3 linked regions of the Homo sapiens genome follow. The protein of the gene in region 2 interacts with the protein of the main gene of each other region in a pairwise test. Each region holds a gene or a part of one and is shown on either strand. Other genes may lie near its edges.

Region 1 (3,600 bases), on a different chromosome or scaffold from region 2:
CTGGAGTTGGCTACTCACTGGCTGAGTGACATTGGGCAAGTTACCTAAGCTCTCTGATTGCAAGAACCAGCTACCATTGGTGCTGGGCTCCCTGTTTTACTAGCACCTCTCACTTAACCCCTGGACTGTGTCATGGAGCAGGAGTGGAGGTGGGGGCCCCATAGGATTATTATCCCCATGTTAGAGAGGTGGAAACAGGCTCTGAGAGGAAATGATTTGCCTGAGTTGATTCAGTGGAGCCTGCATTCAACCCTTTTGTGCCTCTGAACTTCAGTTTCCTTTTCTGTAAAATGGGGATGTCATACCCACCTCTAGAGTACAGATAATCTGTGTGTTATGTCTCGCCCAGGCACACTGCCGCAGCAGTTATCGCTTCTGTTGGTAGAGGGGCCCAGGCTGGGGCCCAGCCCTTTCCGGGTCTTTGGTGGGCGGTGGGGTGGGGACCAGATCCAGTCAGCAGGGGGCCTGTGTGTGAGCTGGGAGTGGGGACAGGGTCTTGGATCCCATTGAGGAATATAAATTTTGAGCCCCAGGCTGAGGACTTGCCTGGCCTCCAGGCCCTGGAGCCACTGTCTCCCTACCTGTTGGCCTTTCCATTGCCCAAACCTGCTTCCCCATTAGGGAAAGTGTGGGAAGTTCCAGGTCTTAGTCCACAGGGTCTGGATTTCACCTCTGTTTTCCCTTCTTCCTCCTGGCAAGGGGCCTTAAATTGCCTGAATCCAGCTAAGCCCAAAGCATTTCCCAGCCCTGTCCTGCATGCAACCTGAATGGGGCTGAGGAGGGAGGAACTGACACTGAGCTCTCGCAAAGCTGGGCAGTTAGTGGCCACCAGGCACCTGTTTGCTGTTGGGTAGGTGTGGCTGGAGACAGCAGACAGTGACATTGGAACCTGAGGCCAGTTTAGAGCTGCTTTGGTGTTTGCTGTGTTTTTGCCCAGTAGACGGGGGTTCCTGGGTTCCTGGGTTCCTACCCCCTCCACCCGTACCCCACCCACCCTGGACTGCAGCCTGGGAACCCCGCTTCACAGTCTGCCCCTCTAGACAGCAAAGGCCCCATTGTTTCCAGGTTGGAGTAGGGTCTGGGGGAACTGGACCTGGTTAGATCCTGGACCCAGATCAATAGCATATTTCCCCCACCCCCAGGAACCCCCGAGATGGCCCAGAGACCTGGTGGTGGCAGCATGGGTGGTGTCAGTGAAGCAGGCCCAAGGCCCCACCCCTACAGCACCTGCCGTCCTGGCTGGAGTATTTCCCTGTGTGCTGGGTGCCTTGGCAACAGCTGGGTACACCGCTCGCCTGACCCAATTTGAGCAGGTAGAGCAGGTGGTGCATCAGGCTGTTGCTCAGCCTCATCTTCCTGAGGCCTCCTTGAGAGCAGCGATCCTCACGCTGCTGTGCTCTGAGCTCCTGCACTCTGTGCCAGGCAGGGTGCTGACTGTTTTGCAACTGGTATTTCCATGAATCCTCTCAGCCATCCAGAGAGGCACCAAAGCCAGAGAGGTGAGTGCCAGAGGTCACCCAGGTGGTAAATGGCAATTCGGAAATTAACACTTTTATCGTTCTATAAAGCGCCCTTGATTGTACGCATTCTGTATGCTAGGGGCTTGCCTAGCCCCTCAAATAGATGATTATTTGAGGCCCTGCAGTCACCTACCCCATGGGCTGATGGCATTACCCCACTTACAGGTGAGGAAGCTGGGGTCAGGACAACTGAAGTGACTGGGTCTGTGCTACTCAGCTTGAAATTGCAGAGATGGGATTTGAATTTGGGCAGGTCCAGCTCTAAGGCCCTGTCTTGCCTTGATGGCAGTGGGCCGGAAGCAGCTGCAGACCCGTGTGACAGCCCCAGACCTTTGAGAAAGGCTCCATTCCATGGATTGGGTAGTTCAGGAAAGTCCAGAGCTGAGCAGTTAGGAGGCACCATGGTAGGTTTCGTGAGGTCCAAGGAAAAGTGTCCCCAGGACCTTTCAGGGGGTGGGGCTGAAGTCACTGCTGTGGATTTGGGGCCAGGCCTGGGCTGGCACTGGGGCATGGTGAGCATTTGTATTCTCCCAGGCATATGTATCCACATAGGGGGGCCTGGGAGGCTTTCCCAGGGGTCCCGGGAGGGAGGAAGAGGTCCTAGCCAAGTCTGGTGAGTCGGGGAGCTGCCATCCTGTCCAAGGCAGCCCTTGGGCAGGAAGAATCTCAAACACCCAAGAGATCTCTGCTTGCAGCTGGCACCAGTCCTGTGTCTGCCTCATGCACGTGGCTGGTGGTGCCAGGGGAGAGGAGTACAAGGGAGGCACTGACTTACCTCATAGCAAGTATTTTCTGGAGGAGATGGGCAGAGAGCATTTTCTCAGCCAACAGATGGGGAAACTGAGGCCTGCGGCAGAGAAGTGACTTGCTACGGCCACTTACAGGAGGAGCTGATGGCGTAGCTGAGTGGACTTGGGCCTGGCTCTGACCTCTGTCCCCTGTGTCTTAGTAACTCTCTGTATGAAGGAGGCAGGCTGGGCCAGAACGGGGAGGGGGTCCTTCTGGGGTCCTCTTGTGCTCTGTACTTGGGTGCCAGACTGTCCAAGAAACAGACAGCCTGTGACTTGGAGGCCCCTCTTCTGGCCTTTCTTCTTTGGTAGGCTTGAATCCTCAGTGGGCTTTTGATTTGGGCAGTCTTTGGTGGGCGCGTGGCCGCCCACCACAAAGATGCTGCCTGCCTTCCATGGCACGGCTGGGATGGTGGCCCCGGAGGCACAGGTGGGGTTCTTTTAGTATGAAGAAGGCCTTGGCCAGGTCAGTGCCGCGCTGGGGGCCCCACGCCAGGCCCAGTCCCTGGGGAGGCCAGCCTGGCCGGGTCTTTCCTCACACTCCACACACTTGTGGCCAGAGCCTCCACCCCCCTGGTCCCTCACCCGCCCTTCTAGGAAAAGGCTGTGGAATGCTGGTTGAATCCACCTCCGGGGGAGGCCTGCTCACAGGCACAGTGTGGAGCTCCAGGAGGGCAGGATGGAGATGGACACAGAATTCTGTCCCTTGGAGCTGAGTGGAGCAGGGGCCGTGGAGGTTCGATGGGATTCTTAGATTGGCAGGGCACCCACTTTCCTTCACAGAGCAGGAGCTCTGGAGGCTGAGCACACTGGAGAGGGAGAGGAGGCTGGTGGGCACGTGTGCCTGTTCCACTTTCCCTGAACACACGCTTTGTCTTGGGCTTCTGGAGGTGATCATGATTAGACAGCCCTGTTTCCATGGAGCTGCCAGCTAGGTGGGGGCAGTGAGCTTGGTGGGCATCGTGAAAGCTTCAGAGCAAGGCAGATCTAGGGCATATCCTTCTGCATCCCACTGGATCCCGGCAGGCAGCTGGGGAGGCATTTCCGTCCAGGTGTCTGTCCATTTATTTGACAGATGTGGATTGAGCACTTAACTCAGGCTGGGCATGGTCCTTGTCCTCATGTGGCACATCACTGAGTTAGGGAGAGCTTCCTGGAAGAAGTGACCCTTCCTGGGAGCCTTGAAGGCAGAGGGGAATTGGACAGGAAAGAGATCGGGATAAGCCTTTGGCATAGAAGCCCCTGGCCAACAGGCACTTGTTCCCAGGGTCAGGCGAGGAGCTGGGGTATGG
Region 2 (3,820 bases):
CTCCTGACCTCATGATCCGCCCGCCTCATCCTCCCAAAGTGCTAGGATTACAGGCATGAGCCACTGCACCTGGCCTTAGCTAGATCTTTTTGATAACTTGCTGCAGCTGCTTCACCAGCATTTGCTGCTTCACCTTACAATTTTATGCTCTGAAGATGGCTTATTTCCTTAAACATCATGAACCAACCTCTGCTAACTTCCAACTTTTCTTCTGCAGCTTCTTTACCTCTCAGCCTTCGTAGACTTGAAGAGAGTTAGGGCCTTGCACTCGATTAGGCGTTGGCTTAAGGGAATGTTATGTCTGGTTTGATCTTCTATCCAGAACATGAAAACGTTTCTTTACCAGCAATAAGCCTCCTTCGCTTTCTTATCATTCGTGTGTTCACTGGAGTAGCATTTTTACTTTCCTTCAAGGACTTTTCCCTTGCATTCACTACCTGGCTGTTTGGTGCAAGAGCCCTAGCTTTTGGTCTGTCTCGGCTTTCAATATGCCTTCCTCACTAAGCTTAATCATTTCTAGCTTTTGATTTAAAGTAAGCTTTTGATTTAAAGTAAAATGATTCTTTTACTGGAACACTCAGAGGCCATCGTAGGGTTATTAATTGGCTTAATGTCAATATTGTTGTGTCTCAAGGAATGGGGAGGCCCAAGAGAGGGAGAGATATGGAGGAAGGTATAGGGTTGGTAGAGCAGTCAGAACACACACATTTATGGATTACAGTCGCTGTCTTATATGGGTGCTGTTTGTGATGTCCCAAAGTAATTATAATAGTAACTTCAAAGATCACCATAACATATACAATAATAATGAAAAAGTTTGAAATATTGTTAGAATCACCAAAATGTGACAGAGACATGAACTGAGCACATGCTTTTGGAAAAATGGCGCCCACAGATTTGCTTGATGCAGGGTTGCCACAAACCTTCAATTTGTTAAAAAATGCAATATCTGGGAAGCACAAAGATGTATGCCTGTTAAAGGTTTTAAAGAAGCCATTTTTTTTAAAAGAGAAAACTTTTAAGAAGCTTTACAGATAGAAGACAGTAAGTATTTGTTGACTAAATGGTCAAGTTGGAGTGAGCAGATTTTATAATTTTATTCTACTAACCACCACCAGCAATTTTATTTTTGATGCTTGTAGATGGACAGTGGTGCCAATGTCTATTCGGCCTTCTGTTTTTTTGTTTTGTTTTGTTTGTTTTTTCCTGCCAAAGGACGGTGCTTAGAACTTCCCAGTCTTCCTTGTAGTGGGGAAAATCTGTCACCCCAAGGATACGAATTAGGTAGAAAAGTAATGTAAGAGCCAATCACAACGCGCGCTCCGGAGCGGCTCCAGACTGGCTTCGCCCGGACGACTGGCGGAAGACGAGACTTCGTTACCTCCGTTCAATCGGACAAAGAAGGCCATAATAGTTTAGGACAAGAGAAAATTCCTTGTGGGTTAAACTGCGGTGGGACTGACTGTTACGCAGAAGGCGTAATCGCAAAACTTGTATACACTCTGTATCATGGATACATTATTTTCTGGAATCCTGCAGAAACGATCAGCAGTTGTGATGGCACCAGTACCGAAAATGGCTGTAAGGCGCTCCGGACGCTGGATCAGGTGACGCAGCATCAGGTGACGCAGCCTCAGTCCGCCCCCTTCCCACCAGTGGCTCCTCCTCCTGCTTCCCGGCGTAGCGGTGGGCGTGGCTTGCCCACAGGCTCTTTCTTCTGGGGCCGGGAAAACCGAGGAATACACATGCGCAGTTGGACCCCTCAGGCCCTTCGTGTCCCTTCCCACCCATCTCCCCGCCCCGGCCCTCTGGGCGGGGCTGGGCCGACAGTCCAGCTGCAGCTCGCTGGAGATTCAGTGACTTCCTTGTTGTGAGCCCCGGCCCGGCAGTGTCCCGACTCGTAGCCCCGCTGTTCTTAATCCGGGCCGCTAGCCTGAGTCTAGGTCGCAGCCGCAGCCCCACCCCGTCGGTCACCTTTTCAGCGCAGGTCCTTTCCCCGCACGCCCTGCGCTCCCTAACATGCCCAACCCCAGCAGCACCTCCTCTCCCTACCCCCTCCCTGAGGAAATTAGGAACCTGTTGGCAGGTAAAGAGCGGGAAGGCGGCGATAATGCTGTCGGGGCGGGGGCGAGGGAACGGTGAGCCGGTGGGGACAGAAGCATTCAGAGCCCTTATCCTCCCTCCCCGCGCTTCCCACGTCTTCTAGCCAGTGGGGTCGGCACAGGGAGGAGAGGAGAGGGGTTGTTTTGTCTCAGAAAGGGAGTGGACGTGTGTGTTGAAATTTGGTGCGGGGATGGTGGCGAAGCCCTTTTTGGTGATCTACACAAATGGGATCAGGACGTTTCTATGTGCATTGTGAAGACGGTGTGTGTGTGTGTGTGTGTGTGTGTGTGACAGAAGGGCGGGGGAGGAAGAGTGGAAGAGGGAGAGAGAATGATAATGATAATGAATGCTGCGTGAGCAAGCAGAAGGGAGCAGAAGTCAAATAAGTAGTTCTTGGGTGGTCTGGCCAATGGAGGTAGAGGATGTAGAGATGCAAAGAGCTGTCAGAGCCACAGGTGTTAGGGGTTATGGGGTGAAAGAGTTTGTCATTTCTAAAACTCCCGTTTTTCTTAAACATTCAGCTCACTCACGTTTAAGACTTTTGAAGAAGGTCTGGTTCTCAAATGGCCACTTGTCCCCAGCCTCAGTAATATATTAAAGCAAAAAAGGAAGGATATGTTAAAGTTCTACTTCCTGTGTGACACGATGAAAGTACTTCATCTTTGTACCCTTATCTTCCCTTTTTCAGTTTTACATTACCATTTATAGGAACTTATTTTAGGAGCTAAAAACGTGGTTCTTCAGTAGCATTATGAATCCACTACTAGTTCATTAATTTACTGGATACGGAGGTGTGTATGTTCACTAAGAACCAATAATTTATATTTCTGTACAAGGTAGAAAATATATGTTTTTAAGGTAGCACAAATCTTACCTATCTCAATGTTCTGGAATTTCAACCATCATTTATTTTGTCTTGTGTACGTCAGAATTCTGGAAACTGAATTTTGATTTTTAGTTTTAGATGTCTATAAAATATTTATCTCTCAGTATTGCTTATGAATAACTAGATTACAGATTGCTTATTCTAGCTCTTAAAAAGCAATGTCATCTAAAATGTGACATTTGATGACACATTTTATATGTTACTCCTATAGCAATGTGAGTCCAAATCTCCTAATATTCTGTCATTCAATTTTGGTGCTTGGCATTATTAATATGGTAGTGTAATATTAAGTGTATGAATGTAGACTTATGTTTGTATGATTATGGTACAGTATGTTGAATGCATTTGTGGTGGGATAGTCTTTCACTCTAAGAAATGCTTGTTGTCATTAACGGGTACCACTAAGGGAAATAGTTAAAGAAGTCTAAAGACTGACTTCAGGCAGCTTTATTGCATCACATGACTACTGATTTTGTTTTACTACACTTAACATTTTTTGTTTTTACAATGCTGGAATTGTTTGTTCAGAATATTATTGTAATAACCAGCGCAGAAAAATGTTTATCATTATTCCAAAAATAGATGAAACCATTTTCAGGATATTCTATGTCTGTATTTTTGAATTTAAGAAATAACATATAGACCTCTGGGTGCATGTTTTAAAGCTTGGTACCTCCCATAGTACAGTTTGTTATTTGGATCCATAATCATAAATCACAGATAATATGATATGTAGGTCATGAGAACCTTTATTCTCTTATCCCCATAGATCACAAGTATTTCCTGTGGCCCTTATTTGTGTAATTTAACTAAAAACTCAAAATTACATAT
Region 3 (3,820 bases), on a different chromosome or scaffold from region 2:
CATCCCTCCTCCCATTTCCTAAGAGAAAAGCATTCTTATCTCCATCCCACCACTCTGTTACCCCAGGCACATTGGGCCACACTTGAGCATGTGTACGCATGCACACACACATCCCCACATGCCCCTGCCCATACAAAGAAACACACTTGCCTGCACACCATGGCCTAGTTGTTGATTCCAAAAGCAAAGTCATCATGTCATTGCTTTCTCTCTCTCTCTCTCTCTCACACACACACACACACACACACACTTCTGTGTTTACGCACACTCTCCCTGCCTCTCACCACATCCCAACAGACACATCCTTCTCCACCAAACAGCCCTCCCCACCACACCTCTTCCTCTCCTGGACAGGAGGGATATTCCGGGTTCTTGCTTTAAGGCTGAAGTAACAGTGGTGGGAGTGGGGACTGAACCCCAGATTGAGGAGGGGTCAGGGATCCCTATCAGACAGAGAGACTGGAACTGATAGAGGATGCTACCGTTTCTCTTTTTGTTTTTAAAAATCTTTTTCCACATGTTCTAAGATACTCAGTTTTTCTTCCTTTTTTTTTTTTTTTTTTTTTTTCTTGAGACGGAGTCTCGCTCTGTCGCCCAGGCTGGAGTGCAGTGGCGCCATCTCGGCTCACTGCAAGCTCCGCCTCCCGGGTTCACACCATTCTCCTGCCTCAGCCTCCTGAGTAGCTGAGACTACAGGCGCCCGCCACCACGCCCGGCTAATTTTTTGATTTTTAGTAGAGATGGGCTTTCACTGTGTTAGCCAGGACGGTCTTGATCTCCTAACATCGTGATCCACCCGCCTCGGCCTCCCAAAGTGCTGGGATTACAGGCGTGAGCCGCTGCACCCGGCCTTTTCTTTCTTTTTTTTAAAAAAAGTCATTTTCTGCAACAAAACCCACATTCTTTTTTTGTGTTTTTTTTTTTTAAGGCAGGGTCTTGCTCTGTCACCCAAGGTAGAGTGCAGTAGCTCAATCACAGCTCACTGCAGCCTCGACCTGCCTGACTCGAGGGATCCTTCCACCTCTGCCTCTGCAGTAGCTGGGACCACAGGTGCACACCACCACACCGAGCTAACTTAAGAAAAATTTTTTTTGGTAGAGATGGTGTCTCCCTATGCTGCCTAGGCTGGTCTGGAATTCCTGGGCTCAAGCAATCCTCCCACCCAACCTCCCAAAGTGCTGGGATTACAGGCTGAGCCACTGCCCCCAGCCAGTTACTCAGTTTTTCTAAAACTTGGGTGCCTGGGGGAGGCTGACACCCTTCCCACTCCTCTGAAAGGCAGTTTCCTAAGGGAAGGGTCTTCTGCTGCTCACCACCCTTAACAGCCCTGTGTCCCCAGTGCTCAGCCCCTGAGGAAGGGAAGGCGTGCTGACAGGGTCCATGTGATCCATGTCCAGTGGCTCTGGTGACAGCAGTCTGAAGTCAACTGGCTGTGAGAACTCGAGTAAGGCCAGTCCCGATCTGGTCCTCAGTGATGGAGAAAAGCCCCTCTTAACCTCCAATTCAATGATCCTAAAAGAGCAGGTGCTTCGGGGGTGCTGAAACTGCGCTTTTGGAGGGGGCTTTTGGGAAGGCCGGGCTGGGGACTCAGGTCTGGAGGGTGACAGAGCCGACCTCCCGTAAACCAGGGAGGAGGAAGGTGGGGGCGGGTGGGCCTAGGATCTGGGGGCGCCTCCTCGCTGCGGGGAGCTGGCTTGGGGCTAGGGCGTGACTGTCTCCCTGCCACCATCACCGCCCGCCGGCCGTGACTGCAATAAGAGAAGTCCGAGGCGGCTTCCTCCTCCCTGCCCAGCAGGGGCGGCGGTCAGAGGCGGGCAGCACCCCAGTTCTCCCCGCACGCCGGCACTCGCGGCTGCTGGAGCCCCGGCTGGCTCACCCCGGGGCCGGGCAGAATTGGGCTCCAGGTAAGCGACAGCGTCGGGTGGGGACTGGGCAGGTCAAGCAGTGCCCTCCCCCTCGAGGCTCTGGAGAGAGGACTGGGGGTACACGGGAAGAGAAGCCTGAACCTGGGGGTCGGGGGACACATGAGCAAGGTGACAGCCAAAGGGACCCCAGCCCGAAAAGGCCTAAGGAGGAAAACGGGCGACCTGAAAAGCAAGGCTGATAAACCTGGAGGAGAGGGCGGAGGGGAGCACGGGGGAAGCCGACCAAAGGGACCCCCAAAAAGGTCTAGTGGGTAAAATGGAGGGGACTGATAAGAGTTTAGGAAGGGGGCTGAGGTGGGGGAGAAGGATTAAGGGGAATCCCCAGGACGGTCTGGGGGAGAAACTGAAGGGATCGTGAGAGTGGGACTTTGGGGAGAAGCCGACGGGTCTGATGGGTCCAGGAGAGGGGAAATGGGTGGGGGTGCTGGAGGGAACAGGAGAGGGAGCTGGCGGGAAGGGGGTTGAGGAGAACGACTTCTGGAGGACGGAGAACCTGGGGTGCAATTGCGGGTCCAGGAAGTTCCCCTCTTCCGAGCCGGCCGAAGTCGGGGTGAAGCCCACAGCCCGCAGGGTAACGTTAGCGGCCGCGACCGCGGCCCCGCGACCCTCTCGGCCCGCCCTTGCGGTAGGTTCCGGGCTGCAGGGGACTCCTGCCGGGCGCGCGAGGCGTGGGTCCCCGCTTCCTGGGGAAGTCCCCGCCCTCGGCAGGGACAGGCCTCTCCGGGCGCCCCCTCCGCGCCCGCGGCGGTCTCGGCCCGCGCTCCCCGCTGGATCCGGGAATTGCTGCCGCCCCGACGGAAATCCTGCCTTTGACCGCGAGTGCCCGCAGGGGCTGCCTCCAAGGCAACGAGAGGGCGGGCCGCGCTGGGCCGCCGCGGGGCTCCGGGTGGGCGCAGCCCCCTTTGCTCTCCGCCTTCGCCCCCTTTTGGAATCCTCGGTCTGGTGGGTGGGGGGTGGGCTTCCCGACCGAGGTAGGAGGCGATGCCGCTGTGTTCAGGGATCCTGGGGTGGAGGATCTGCTGTTTGAGAGACCTGGGTTCTTAGCAAGACTGGGCCCTTAATTGCTGTGTGACTGTGGGCAAGTTACAGGGCTTCTCTGGGCCTCACTTTCCTCATCTGAACTATGGTGAGAAATGATCCTTGTGTCCACTCTTCCCCCACGAGAATCAGGTGCAGAAAGCAGTTTTTGCTGAGTGTCCTGAAGGGTTAAGGGCTATCCCTGACTCAGCGAGCCTCCCCTTCACCTTCTCAAAAACATGCAGAGGAGGCCAGCCTGGGCAGCACAGGGAGACCCCCGTCCTGTCTCTACAAAAAAATATAGTTAGCCAGAAGGCTGGAAGTGGTGGCACCTGCTGTAGTCCCAGCTACTCCAGAGGCTGAGGCCGGAGGATCGCTGGAGCCCACGAGTTCAAGGCTGCAGTGAGAGCTCCTGGATGAGAGAGTGAGATTTTGTCTGTAAACAACAACAACAACAAAAAGCATGGAGGGGGACCAGACTGCCCGGCTCTCACTGACAGGGCCTCCAGGGACCAGCACACAGTTGGCGTCTAAATAGTTTATGGCTCTGATGAGAGCCCATACTGGGGAGGTCAGCAGAGTTAAAATCTGTCTCACACCCTCTCTGGTGCTGCATCCAGTTGGCCGCCCCTCGGGTGTGTACTCTCAGGGGCCCTGATGTCCTTGGCATCCTTCCGACTGTGGTGATGATGGGAGAGCAGGACCCTGTTCCCACTTCACAGATGGGAAGATGGAGGTTTGGGAGTTGGCAACCTGCAGGGCCAACAGTAGGGACCAGAATTCCAGGACATCTCGTCTCTGATGTAGCCTGAGCTGAGGCCTGAATCCTTACCTCATCCCTACCAAGTTTCATGTACCCTCCGGGGAGGAGGGTGTGG

What was found.
Region 1: the proteins of SKAP2 (region 2) and EEIG1 interact in a protein complementation assay, tested with the Homo sapiens proteins (one study listed by BioGRID).
Region 3: the proteins of SKAP2 (region 2) and FGR interact in a protein complementation assay, tested with the Homo sapiens proteins (one study listed by BioGRID).

The regions. Positions count from the first base shown.
Region 1 is NC_000009.12:127,974,390-127,977,989, reverse strand, and holds part of EEIG1 (early estrogen-induced gene 1 protein), read left to right. Parts: intron 1-3,600. UniProt on the Homo sapiens protein: Key component of TNFSF11/RANKL- and TNF-induced osteoclastogenesis pathways, thereby mediates bone resorption in pathological bone loss conditions.
Region 2 is NC_000007.14:26,862,629-26,866,448, reverse strand, and holds the start of SKAP2 (src kinase-associated phosphoprotein 2), read left to right. Parts: upstream 1-1,858; 5' UTR 1,859-2,019; coding exon 2,020-2,086; intron 2,087-3,820. UniProt on the Homo sapiens protein: May be involved in B-cell and macrophage adhesion processes. In B-cells, may act by coupling the B-cell receptor (BCR) to integrin activation. May play a role in src signaling pathway.
Region 3 is NC_000001.11:27,633,149-27,636,968, reverse strand, and holds the start of FGR (tyrosine-protein kinase Fgr), read left to right. Parts: upstream 1-1,783; 5' UTR 1,784-1,904; intron 1,905-3,820. UniProt on the Homo sapiens protein: Non-receptor tyrosine-protein kinase that transmits signals from cell surface receptors devoid of kinase activity and contributes to the regulation of immune responses, including neutrophil, monocyte, macrophage and mast cell functions, cytoskeleton remodeling in response to extracellular stimuli, phagocytosis, cell adhesion and migration.